Regions from separate parts of the Homo sapiens genome. Here region 2 is linked to region 1. The links come from fine-mapping of genetic effects on gene expression. Tissue or cell type: nasal epithelium. Region 1 holds a variant in brackets; the other region holds the start of a gene. All regions are shown on one strand. Distances are between the middles of the regions.

Region 1 (5,721 bases):
TGTCTGTCTCTGTGTCCAAATTTCCCCATTTCATAAGAACATAGTCATATTTAATCACTTAGGGCTTACTCCAATGAAATCATCTTAGCTTGATCATCAACAAAGATCTTATTTTTAAATAAGGTCACATTCACAGATACTAAGATTAGGACTTCAGTGTCCTTTGAGGGGACACAATTCAACCCATAACACTATCTATCTTGAAAAATCACCAGAGAGGATAATTTATAGCCATTGGTAAAATTTATGCAAATCATACAATTTCCCTTCAGTCAATGCATTTATTCTGGGTGCCATATTTAGATGATAGGCTGCCAAAAGTAATGCACCGTGAATATTCTTTTTCTTTATATTATAAAAGCTATTCAATTACTCCTGGATTTTCCAGGAACTATGGTTCTCTAGTTCCTTATAAATCTCAATGGTATTTTTCTGAATCTTACTGCTTTCCTTTTATTTATAAATACTAGACTCTCCCACTTTAAGCAAATTTCTAAAGACTGGGGTAAAAGATCTCTTTTGTGAGCAAAGTGCATGTCTAGGGCCCTGTTATTTAAGAAATTTAAGATCATCAATTTCAAACATTCAAAGCCTATACTGCTGGTTCATATTTTTCACTATCCAGAACAGTAATCTTCACAATGGTTAGCTGTGTTCTCTAAAAGTCGCAGATAATTGTTATCACATTTAAAATCAAGCACCCATCACAACTCCCCAGTTCTTTCTTTTAGGAAAACCTAAAGAAACCTTGGATGACCTTAAGACTCTATGGAAAAGCTGGAAAAACACTGACCCAGAAAACAAATGTGTAACAAGTCACATTTTTTCCATTACTTAAGGGAAATTGTGGTGCGAATTTTTTTCTTAATCTCTCTGCTAAGTGTAAATATGTGACTCACCCGAACTACCTCATTCTTAGACCATAAATATTAGGAGTGATGACTTATAAGGGGCTCATGTTCATGTGTGGTAAGTAAATACTTGTCTGCACATATTAATTTAACAAGAAAATGGCATTTTCCTAAGTAGCATAACATCAGAAACAGTAGAGAATTTAATATAAGTAAAAAGCAGTGTTATATTTTAAGAAAATTACTATGATGAAAGAATTCATTTTTTTCAAAGAGTAATATAATAATATTAGGCTTTAATACCTAAGAACATGCATGCTAGATCTGGTTCCAATCCAAAAAAGTTCTATGAAACTTCAAATACCATGTGAAGGTTAACTTTTAAAAATACATTTCTTCAGAGCAAATTTCTATTCCTAGTCCATGCGAAACCACAGGGTGGTGCTCCAGCTGGACTGGTTTCCTCAATTCAAGTTATCCTTGTCCAGTTTCCTTCTTAGGGCACTGCTACATGAAAACCTGATGTGTTCTGTGTTCTTGCAGCAAACTCCTACTGTGTCCTATCTTGGCTCAGGCAGGACAAAATGAAGCTCTCCATCTCTAGGAGGTGGCTTGCTTCAGAGCCTTCTCTGTCCAAAACAAGAGTTTTTTCCATATTGTTTCTCTCTAGGCTTTTGAAATTAGAGGGGAAACACTATGGATAATAGCTTCAGAAAATATGAAAAGCTCACCTATTACAGCAGATGGGACTGAAGTATCAGTCCATATCTAAGGCAGGTGAATTGGTGCATTTGAAGCATTCCAAGTCAGTAGGACAGCCAGAAATATGAAATGAAAAGCACTAGTTTTCCTTAGCAATGAAATTTTGACTCCTATGACTTTGCTAATGCTGTGTTCTGCTTTCCTTTCTGCCTATTCTATTTGTACAACCTTCTGTGCCTTCCTCAGATGGCTTTCCAAAACATCTGTGGGCAATATTCCCTTCACTGAACAGCAATGGTACTTTAAGTGCAAAACAAAACAGCATTTACCTTTTGCAATTTATAGTTCCTGGGTTATTTCATGTGCCTTGTGGTTATCTCAGGAGCCCTTTATTAATCTCCGAACTGTAGGCAAGAAGGTGGTCTTGTTGTCATGGTAATAACTTCAGTACTTAGCACATGGAACGCAGCATTTATTGTAAAATACTTTTCCAATCAAATGGTTGCAGCAGTTTTAGAAGTCATAACAGTAAGGGTAGCATGCAGTTCATGAATTCCTTCATCAGGAGGAAAAGACTGACCTGATTTATAAAGGAAAAGGAAGCATAATAAAAGTGGAATTCTGTTAACCTAACCATATTAGTTCTCTTTGCTTAGAGTTAGGGGGTGTCCAATCTTTTCCAAGAAAACTTTGTATATTCTGGCAGTGCCCTCTGGTGGATGATTTACTATGATCCACTACCATTCAGTTCCTGGACATTACATTTCACCTGAAAGATTTCTACCTTTTGTTACCACTTAGCATTTTTCCCCCCATCTCAAGATGAATAGTGTTTTCTTTCAAAGTTTCTTGAATATCTACATCTACAATCTACAACAAATGCCACTGGATTGTGGTTTGTAAGGAATATCTAAGGTGAATTCCAGCAAAGTGAATATCAGTTTCTACCACTTATTACTTTCAAAGTCATTAAATTGCTAATATGGGTGCAATTTGGCTGTTGCGTGGAAACACTTGGCTTGGGTATGTTTATGTAAATGGTTCAAAGCTGTGGACTGTGTATCTGGCAAGCTGCTTCTAAGAAACAAAGGAGAAATAGGCATGTTTTCCATTTAAAAGACATGTGGTTCTTATTGACTTACCGAGATTGGTTTTTGTTTTTGCTTTGTTTTATTTTCAAAGTCAGTTTTCCACTCTAAGATTAAGTGTGTTCATTATAGAAAACGTAGAAAATACAGAGGAAAAAAATCACCCATAGTCACAACAAAACCAAGACTGATTTTGGATGTAGCCTACGGAGGTAGAATGCTCCCCTGGGGTAGATTTTAGAAACAGGCTGTAGTGGACCAAAGGGGAGCATGGCATTAAGTTTCCACAAGCTGTTTTCTGTATTTATAAAGTACAATAACAATATTGCATGTATTATGTACTTTCATTTTCTGTCTCAAATTAGGTATGGAGATTGCATAATAATAATAGCAGCCATTTATTTAGCACAGAATTTCAAAGCCTAACCCTAGAGTTGCCCTTTGCCTCCTGGTGAACAGCAGTTCAGCCCACACTCAATTCTTCCCTATAACCTCCCACATCTCTGCCAGGATTTATTCTTGTAATAGTAATAACTG[T/C]TGTTTAACAGGTCCTCATTACACAAGAGAATGCAGCGATTAATATGCAGCCTGTTTGAATTCCAATTCTGGCTTTTCCACCTAATAGCTGAGAGATCTTGGATGAGTAATTAAAGTCTCTGCTTCAGTCTCCTTCTTTGTAAAATAAAGGCCCTGCCACACAAGGTTTTTTGGAGAAAACTAAGTCCCTAGAACAGATCTGGGAACATAAATGTTAGTTATCATTGTTAACATATTACGATGATATATTAGACATGATACTAAGTTCCTTATTACGCCATTTACTCCTCATAACAATCCTATGAGTTAGATATTCTTTATCCCTGTTTCAGGTAATGAAAATGAAACAGAGAGCTCCAATGACTTGCCCAAATCACACGGCAAGTTACAATGTTGAGCCTAGATATGAGCCTACATTTGACGGTCTATAAAGTTTCAGCTCGCCATCTTGTTTTGGCTCTGATAGGTTAGCTATTATTTTGCTTGTTTGTTTAATTTGTATTGAAGTATAAAATATATTTAATATATAAAAATGCATATTACACAGTTTACACTGTGTAAATATTCCCAAATGAAAAACTCCTGAGATATCATCACTGCATCTTTACCAGATCCCATCCAAAGGTGACTACTAAGCTCCCTTCTAATATCATAGCTGTGGTCCAAAAGTGAGCAGTCTTGGCCTTGTACCTACTCTCCCTCCCCGTCCTTTCCCCCAGTAGCCTTCAGGGGGGTTCACAGACCAAAGTAGCATAGTAGGAGAACCACTGTCTATACCCTGCATATGCAAATGCATTCATCTCAGTGGGTTGTAACTCTCAGGAAGGAAGGATTCTAAGGCCATAGAGCGCAAAGGAAAGTATGACATGATCGATTAGTAATGTCTATCATAGTCACGAAACGAGGATGGTGGAGATCTGTAGGCTGGTCCTAGACACCATTTATGAACAGAAACAACTTTTCTTTAAAGTATTTTATTTTCTACCATTTCTAAATCCAGTATCCATGTGAATTGGCATGTTGGCATAATCATGCTGTTGGCTATTTAGTACAAATAGGCTAAATATTAACCTAAGAATCATCTATGTGCATGTAACTTTCTGCATTTGTCCAATAGATCTTTTGAGAGAAATTACTGGAAGTGGAATTCCTTTCATTAAAGTCTCCACCCTCTTCTATAGAAGTAGCACTTTTCCCCTCCAGTATGCAACACAGGTCACATTCTGCCATGAACTAGTATTGTTAATGAACATCTTTCTCCCCATCAGAACTGCAAAGCCCTTGAGTACTAATTCTGTCTTGTGCTTTCATGTATCATCCACCTCCCCTCCCACCAGTGCCTAGCACTGGTGTTTTCTTTGTTCATAGTAGATGTGGATACATTTTTTTGGCTTTAAATATAAAGATACATTTTACTATTAATATTTTAAAATATGTTAAGAATTAAGTATCAGAATTCAGTCTATATAAGGAAAGCCTGAGATGAAGTGATAAAAAATAGATGAAAAAGTCTTGATTTTTCAGAAAGAACAAATAAGCAAATAAACACAGCCCTGTTTTTCTCAGTCACTATTAGATATTGAACATTAAGAGTTAAAGGACTGCAGGCTGGGCGCGGTGGCTCACGCCTGTAATCCCAGCACTTTGGGAAACCGAGGCGGGCGGATTACGAGGTCAGGAGATTGAGACCATCCTTGCTAATACAGTGAAACCCCGTCTCTACTAAAGAATACAAAAAATTAGCCGGGCGTGGTGGCGGGCGCCTGTAGTCCCAGCTACTCGGGAGGCTGAGGCAGGAGAATGGCATGAACCCAGGAGGCGGAGGTTGCAGTGAGCCGAGACGGCGCCACTGCAGTCCAGCCTGGGTGACAGAGCTAGACTCTGTCTAAAAAAAAAAAAAAAAAAAAAAAAAAAAAAAAAAAAAAAACAGAGTTAAAGGACTGCAAATGAATTTAATGAAACTATTGCCCAAATGATTGATGTTCATGTACAGACCAAAATTTCAGTGCTAAATAGACATGTTAATAATGATGCTGGAATATACGAGTATTTAAAAATCTCCAAATTCCTGGGGAATTAGTAGTTGTAATAAAAGTGACTTCTTCTCATTCACTTCATGACTCCTTAATGTCTCTGCACTTGCTTGGTATCAGCGGCTTATTTAACAAGTCACTGCACATAACTTGTATTCCTTAATAATTAATACACTTAAAGTTTCCTATGCTTACATGGATAGAAATGTTTTCCCAGTGTCTTAAGTTTGATTCTTGCAACACTCATCTCTGTGTTCTTTCAGAAACAGGAGGCTCACTGTAGCTGACCAGCACTGGCATGGTCCTTCATTTGCTGTTTGTTTTTTAGGTCATTTCCCCCCCGCATTTCTACCTTCTTTATTCGCACCTTCTTTATTCACACCTTCTTGTTTTATTCCAATTAACATTCCCAATCTTCCTTTTGAAAATCCCAGAAGTCCCCATCATGGCCAGTCTGCCTAGCCTTCTGGGTGTCTTCTGACTTTATTACTTATAGTTCACTTGTAATTT
Region 2 (5,721 bases), 70 kb before region 1:
ATATCAACACTTCGTCTACTTGTTTTGTGTTAGAGGTTTTAGCTGAAGCCTAAGGCCAGGCTAAGAGACTTGAATGTGACAAGGACTTCCCCTTTCCCCAGGAGAATTCTTGCCCAGCAAACATATGTCATGGAACCGTAAGTACAAAGTGTCCTCTGCCCTTCTTACTGATCCATGAGGCAGGCAGCACAAGAGAGCGTGCCTCTTTTTGCTGCTTTAGAGACAAAGGAAGCAGCCCGCAGAATATAGGATACATACGGAAGATGTAACACAGTGGGAGTCAGGCTCCAAGATAGCTACTTCATCTATCTTAGAGCAGCACATCAAGAACTGCAGATGTGTATGCAAATGCCTCCCTAGTTGAGGGAGGAATGCTGTTGTTATATGGGCTAAGCAGGAAAATGGAGAGAATCAGGTTCCATAGGCAAGTTCCAAAAGAACTACTACAAATGGGACCTGGCTTGGGCCCTCTTCGAAAACTTACTATTATTATTTTTTTCTTGAGACAGAGTCTCTTTTTGTCACCTAGGCTGGAGTGCAATGGCACGATCTTGGCTTGTTACAACCACCGCCTCTGGGGTTCAAGTGATTCTCTTGCCTCAGCCTCTGGAGTAGCTGGGATTACAGGCTCCTTCCACAACGCCTGGCTAATTTTTATATTTTTAGTAGAGATGGGGTTTCACCACGTTGGCCAGGCTGGTCTCGAACTTCTGACCTCAGGTGATCCGCCCATCTCAGCCTCCCAAAGTGTTGGGATTACAGATGCGTGCCACCACGCCTGGCTAATTTTTTGTATTTTTAGTAGAGACGCTGTCTCTACCCATGTTGCCCAGGCTGGTCAATAACTCTTATTAAATAAGAGTGGCAAAGTGGGAATTCCAACTCAAGTCTCTGTAAATAGTATATTTACAGATATAGGGTCACAGATTTTTTTTTTTTTATTAAATCTTGCCCTGAGTATAAGATTTAATGGGGGAAACAAGGTAACATGTGAAACCTGAACACCTTAATGCCACACGATTCCATGTAATTGGAATTCTGTAAGATTCTATATAATGAATCTGGGTAATTATTATCCCATCCCAGACTTCAAAGATCTTCTGCATGCTAAGACACCAAAGTCTCTCTCTTTTCCAGGCCTCTTTCTTAAATGTCGCAGCCCCATACATTCAATTTCTTACTGGATGGTCTATCCTAAATCCAGTATGTAAAAAAGCTCAAACATATCCTATCACAACTTCTTCTTTATCTTAATTCATTCAATTCAGTAGGTATTCTTTAACTACCTACTATATGCCAGGCTGTAGGTATACACACTGTATGGATGATGCTGGGAATACAGAAGTCACACATGGTACATTCCTGGCTTCTGGGAGCTCACAGATTAATGGAGAGGACTAAGGGGCAGAAATGAGTACAACACAAACACAATGATAAGATCACAGGGTCCTGTGAGATACAGAGGGAGGCATCTAATCCAGATGTATGTGGTGTGGAGGGAGGGGTACATTAGTGATCAGGAAACTCATAAACCATACAATGTTTGAGCTTTCTCAAAGAACCAGCAGGGCAGCTCCTGCTCAGCTAGGCAACTCCTCTTTTTGCCATAGATCTAGCTGTTCCATTCAGCCATTCACTCGTGGCTGCAGTGACCTTCCAGGTCAGTCTGGACTCTGGAAATTGCCTCCATGGTTACCTCCCTTCCCATTGATGACATTCTACAGATCGTTCAGTTTGCCCTAGGCCCCTGTCTGTTCTATATAACACTGGTTTTCTGGAAGCCGTTTGGTATCTTGGTAAGAATACCCAGATTTATAAGGGAAAAACAATAACATAAGTGCCTCCTGCTTCTTTGCTCAGATGTTTCAGTTTTTGGGAGATCATTTAGCCTCTCTGAAGCTCACCTCCTCATCTGTGAAAGGCTAGTAATTATAATACTAGTTCTTACATGAAGAGAGGGTGTAAAAATCAAATCAGATGAGGGATATGAAAGCAGGTCCAGCACAGCTCGCATATTAATTGTCTTTGTTAGGGTCTGAGCATAATGGAGTATGACTCCAATGCAAATCCTATAAATGCTGATCCTGTAAGGAGGACGAGAAGCTTTTGGAACTTTCTCAAATATATGAATAGAATTTCAATTGAATTCCTTGTTTGTTTTTCCTAGCATCTCTCAGTTCCCAATCCAGTCTGGATTTCATTCCAGCCATTTACTAGCCTTGCGTTACCTTCTCCTTCAGTTTCCTCTTGGGTATCATGGAGATAATTAAAGATACTTCAAAGAGATATTGCGAGGATCATTTGAAATAAGGAATAGAAAACACCACGTAGTGATGCTTTCTTAGGCAAGGTTTTGACCGAGGAAAGCCGCCCTTCGGTGGGAGCCTGGAGGCTTGGAAATAACCAGTGAAAAAGGGAAGCCCGTCTTGGGTGCAGCACGTTAAAGACCCAAGCTCGCAAGCCTGGGAGGCAGCGCGGCGGGAGGAGCCTGCCCCTGCCCCCAGTAGGGGGCGCCGAAGCGCCGCACTGCAGCATCCTGGCCGCTGAGCGCAGCGGCCTTGGCCGGGCTCAGCTCGCGTCCTGCCGCAGTCCCTCCGCCGCTAGTCGGAGCGAGCGCGAGTGAGGAGACCCCCGCCGGGCCACTGGCACTTGCTTCTGCGGCGAGTCCCACCCACGACCGCAGCCCAGCAACTCGCAAACGCAACCTGAAGCCTGGGCTGCGCAGTGTGGGAGGGCTTCGCGATCTTGGGGGACCCATTCCGAACTTGCAGAGGACCGTAGCTCTCCTGGCCTGGAGAGTGTGAACAGGTGAGTGTCACGCACGTGTCCAGGCAGCTCTTTCGGGACGACTTCCTGCAGACCCATTCCGAGCCCTGAGCGCGCTCGGCCTCTGAGTCGGTCCTCTTGGTCACCGGGTTCTCCTCCCAGGGCGGCTTTGGGGTTCGCTGCGAGGGAGATGTGAACACCAGCAGCCTATCTTGACAGGGCTCTCCTAGCTGAGAGGGAAAATGCCCTTTTGACTTAAGGCTGCATTTTCTCCCTAGCCTGAAAGCAAGTGACTTGCAGTCCACAATGGATTTGTTTATTCTTGCAAGATACCTGTTGAGTTCAGAGCAACATTAAATAGCCAAGGGGCTTATACAATTATCCTGGTTTGCTGTGGGTACTGCGTAGTGATAAGAAGAGGAAGAATTCCTAGTAATGAGACCAGGAAAACTTGATTTCAGAACCAGAGAAGGGGAGGCCAAAAAAGAAGAGAATCTCATTTCCAGGCCTAGACTAGGGTCTTTGCTTCCCTAAATAGCTACACTTGATTTTGATGAGCGCATGCAAACAGAAGTTCCAAGCATGATTACCTTATAAAGACGCTTGCTTGCCCCACCCCCAAGAGGAAGTAGAAAGCATGAACCTTGATAAATATAGCCTTGAGAATGATTTATTAGGAATGAAAACTTTCTTTAAATAAGTAAGTAAATAAGGTTACAGTTATCTAAATATCATAGGTCTAACAGAGTGTAAGCTCTTCGAAGGGAACTACTTTTATTTGTATGTGCATAGCGTGAAAGTGTGGAATAAATCAATGAATGCATCACTAATAATACAGGATTTTAGCTAGCGTTTTTCCTTTTTCCTTTAATTTATGTTTAGGGAAAAAAAAACCTACACCTTCAAACTAAATAGGTATGATTTTACCTTTAGAGTGATAGCAGCTGAGATGTTTTTGTCCTAATAAGCACCATCCACATAAAAAGTGAATGGCAAATTTCAGCCCTACTCAGAATATTTCAGCAGAACATTAGGACAAATGGATTTTCTTAGATCCACGTATGGAAGCTCTCAGATTATGAATTATTTGGAACATCAGAAACTTGGCAACAGTTTACTTATTACAACAATTTACATATTTATTTTTGTTTTCTATCTTGTCAAATGTAACTTTTCACATTTTCATGTGAGAAATAAAATGTTGAAGAACTCCTGTCAGTTTTGTGTCTTCCTTTAAGTGATTTTTCTAAACATAAAATTAGGTTGACAATAACCAGCTGTATCTTTATTAGGTTATAAATGGAAAAAATAGCCCACACAATTTCTCTTTCTTATGTGAAATTCCTATGCCTCTGGGGCCATTTGGGAGTTACTAAAAAATGTGACTTGTCATTTTTTTAAAATCACATTTGATGGCTACTTTCATGAAACATTAATCAGACAGATAATTACTTGCATTTTATATCCATGTATATGAACAGTTTTGCATGAAACAAAATTATTGTTTATACTAGCTGCAGACACTTGCGTGTTCAATGTTTCAAAGAAATACTTGCCAGCACCTCTTCTCATTTATAATTTAAATAGTTAATATATCTCCACATATTATGTTTCTGTGATGAAGCCCTGAACCTTAAAAACATAGGGCCTTTTCTTAATGAATGCATCTAAAGTGACAAATAAGGAAATCTTTTTATCTTTAGCCAAAAATATGGGACTGGACAAATTGCAGATGTTTAAGCTTCTGGTTTTTGCTAATAATGATTACTTAGACACTTTGTCATTATTGAGGATGAAGTAAACAATAGCTAATGTTAATGTTGATTTTTCCTTCCTTCAGAGGAAGCTCTGGCACTTTGAAAATCAGCAAATACAAAACCTTATTAGGTACAGGATGATAGCTTAAATACCTAAGGAAGAAAACAATTACATGATAATGTCTTTGTAGAAATACTTTTTCAGGCGGATTTTCACTTTTTAATTTCTCTCTCAAGAAGCTCTTTGTAAAAATTTATAGATGGAAAAATCTGGCAGGAACATTTAACACATTTAGATAACATATTTGTGTTTAAAACATCTTTACTGCCTTGAAAATGGAATGAATTATGCAGACTGGTGTGATTAAGATTAACACGGGTAAAAGTGCTGTGCTGTATTTAGGTTTAAGCCATTGATTGCAAATGTTCGGAATGAGGGGGTCTGCAGTCCGTGTAAAAGATGTGAGGCTTAATGTGATTGGCTGTGCTACAGTATAACCATGGTGGGCAGATTAACGATAGTGAAAATCTCAGGGAATTTACACCGGGTCAGTTTGTCAGGTCATATCTCAAAGTGGAATGCAGTGGACACCATGCTTTTAGAGTGATTAAGATGTTGAGGAGGCAATGCACATGATGAAAAAGGGAGTGAAGGTCAAAAAAACATAAACGAGAGTGTACATTCCGGGAAGAACAAGTGGACAGGCTGGGCCTCATGTTCCTAGAAAAAAGAAGCCTAGGATGGAGCAAAGGGTCCTACTAGATGCTAGGATCCTTGAACGGTTCTGAGTGAAAGAAAAAGTTGACTTGTTTTGAGTTATTTCATAGAGAGAAATGAGGACAAATGAGTAGAAGCCGCAGGGAGACAGTTTAGAGCTCAATATTAGAAAGATAGTTCCTCCTAATTGGAGAAATGAAGCAGCTTTCAGAAGTAATGAGCCCACCTTTCATACCTGGAAGTGGTAAGTCAGGCATGGAATATGGAATGATTGTTATGTCCTAAGGAAAGATTCTTGCTAGAAGAATGGCTAGAAGATTTCTTCAGATGACCCCCACTCCAGCCCCCACCACCACCAAAGCTCTTTCCAAATTTACGTTTCCATGATCCTAAGAACCTAGATGTCACTCCTAAAGCACCAAACTAAATAAGATGTGCTTACTTTGTACATAATGTTATTTCCCAAGCTTTAAGACAGCA

What was found. PIP is the estimated chance that this variant, and not a neighbour inherited with it, causes the effect.
Region 2: it holds the start of RERG, and the variant in region 1 is fine-mapped to the expression of RERG in nasal epithelium (TOPMed, PIP 0.95). The same link has a PIP of 0.9 or more in prefrontal cortex.

What each region holds. Positions count from the first base shown.
Region 1 is chr12:15,148,232-15,153,952 of GRCh38, reverse strand. All of the region lies in intron 2 of RERG (RAS like estrogen regulated growth inhibitor), which reads left to right. It overlaps RERG-AS1 (RERG antisense RNA 1), which reads right to left and starts at 2,030. Exons shown (of 3, transcript NR_046559.1): 1 at 1,883-2,030. The variant T/C (reference allele first, on the strand shown) is at 3,179.
Region 2 is chr12:15,218,282-15,224,002 of GRCh38, reverse strand. RERG (RAS like estrogen regulated growth inhibitor) reads left to right here and starts at 2,586. Exons shown (of 5, transcript NM_032918.3): 1 at 2,586-2,808. It overlaps LOC124902886, which reads right to left and starts at 3,335. Exons shown (of 1, transcript XM_047429948.1): 1 at 2,025-3,335. The coding sequence starts at 2,758. The coding sequence ends at 2,441.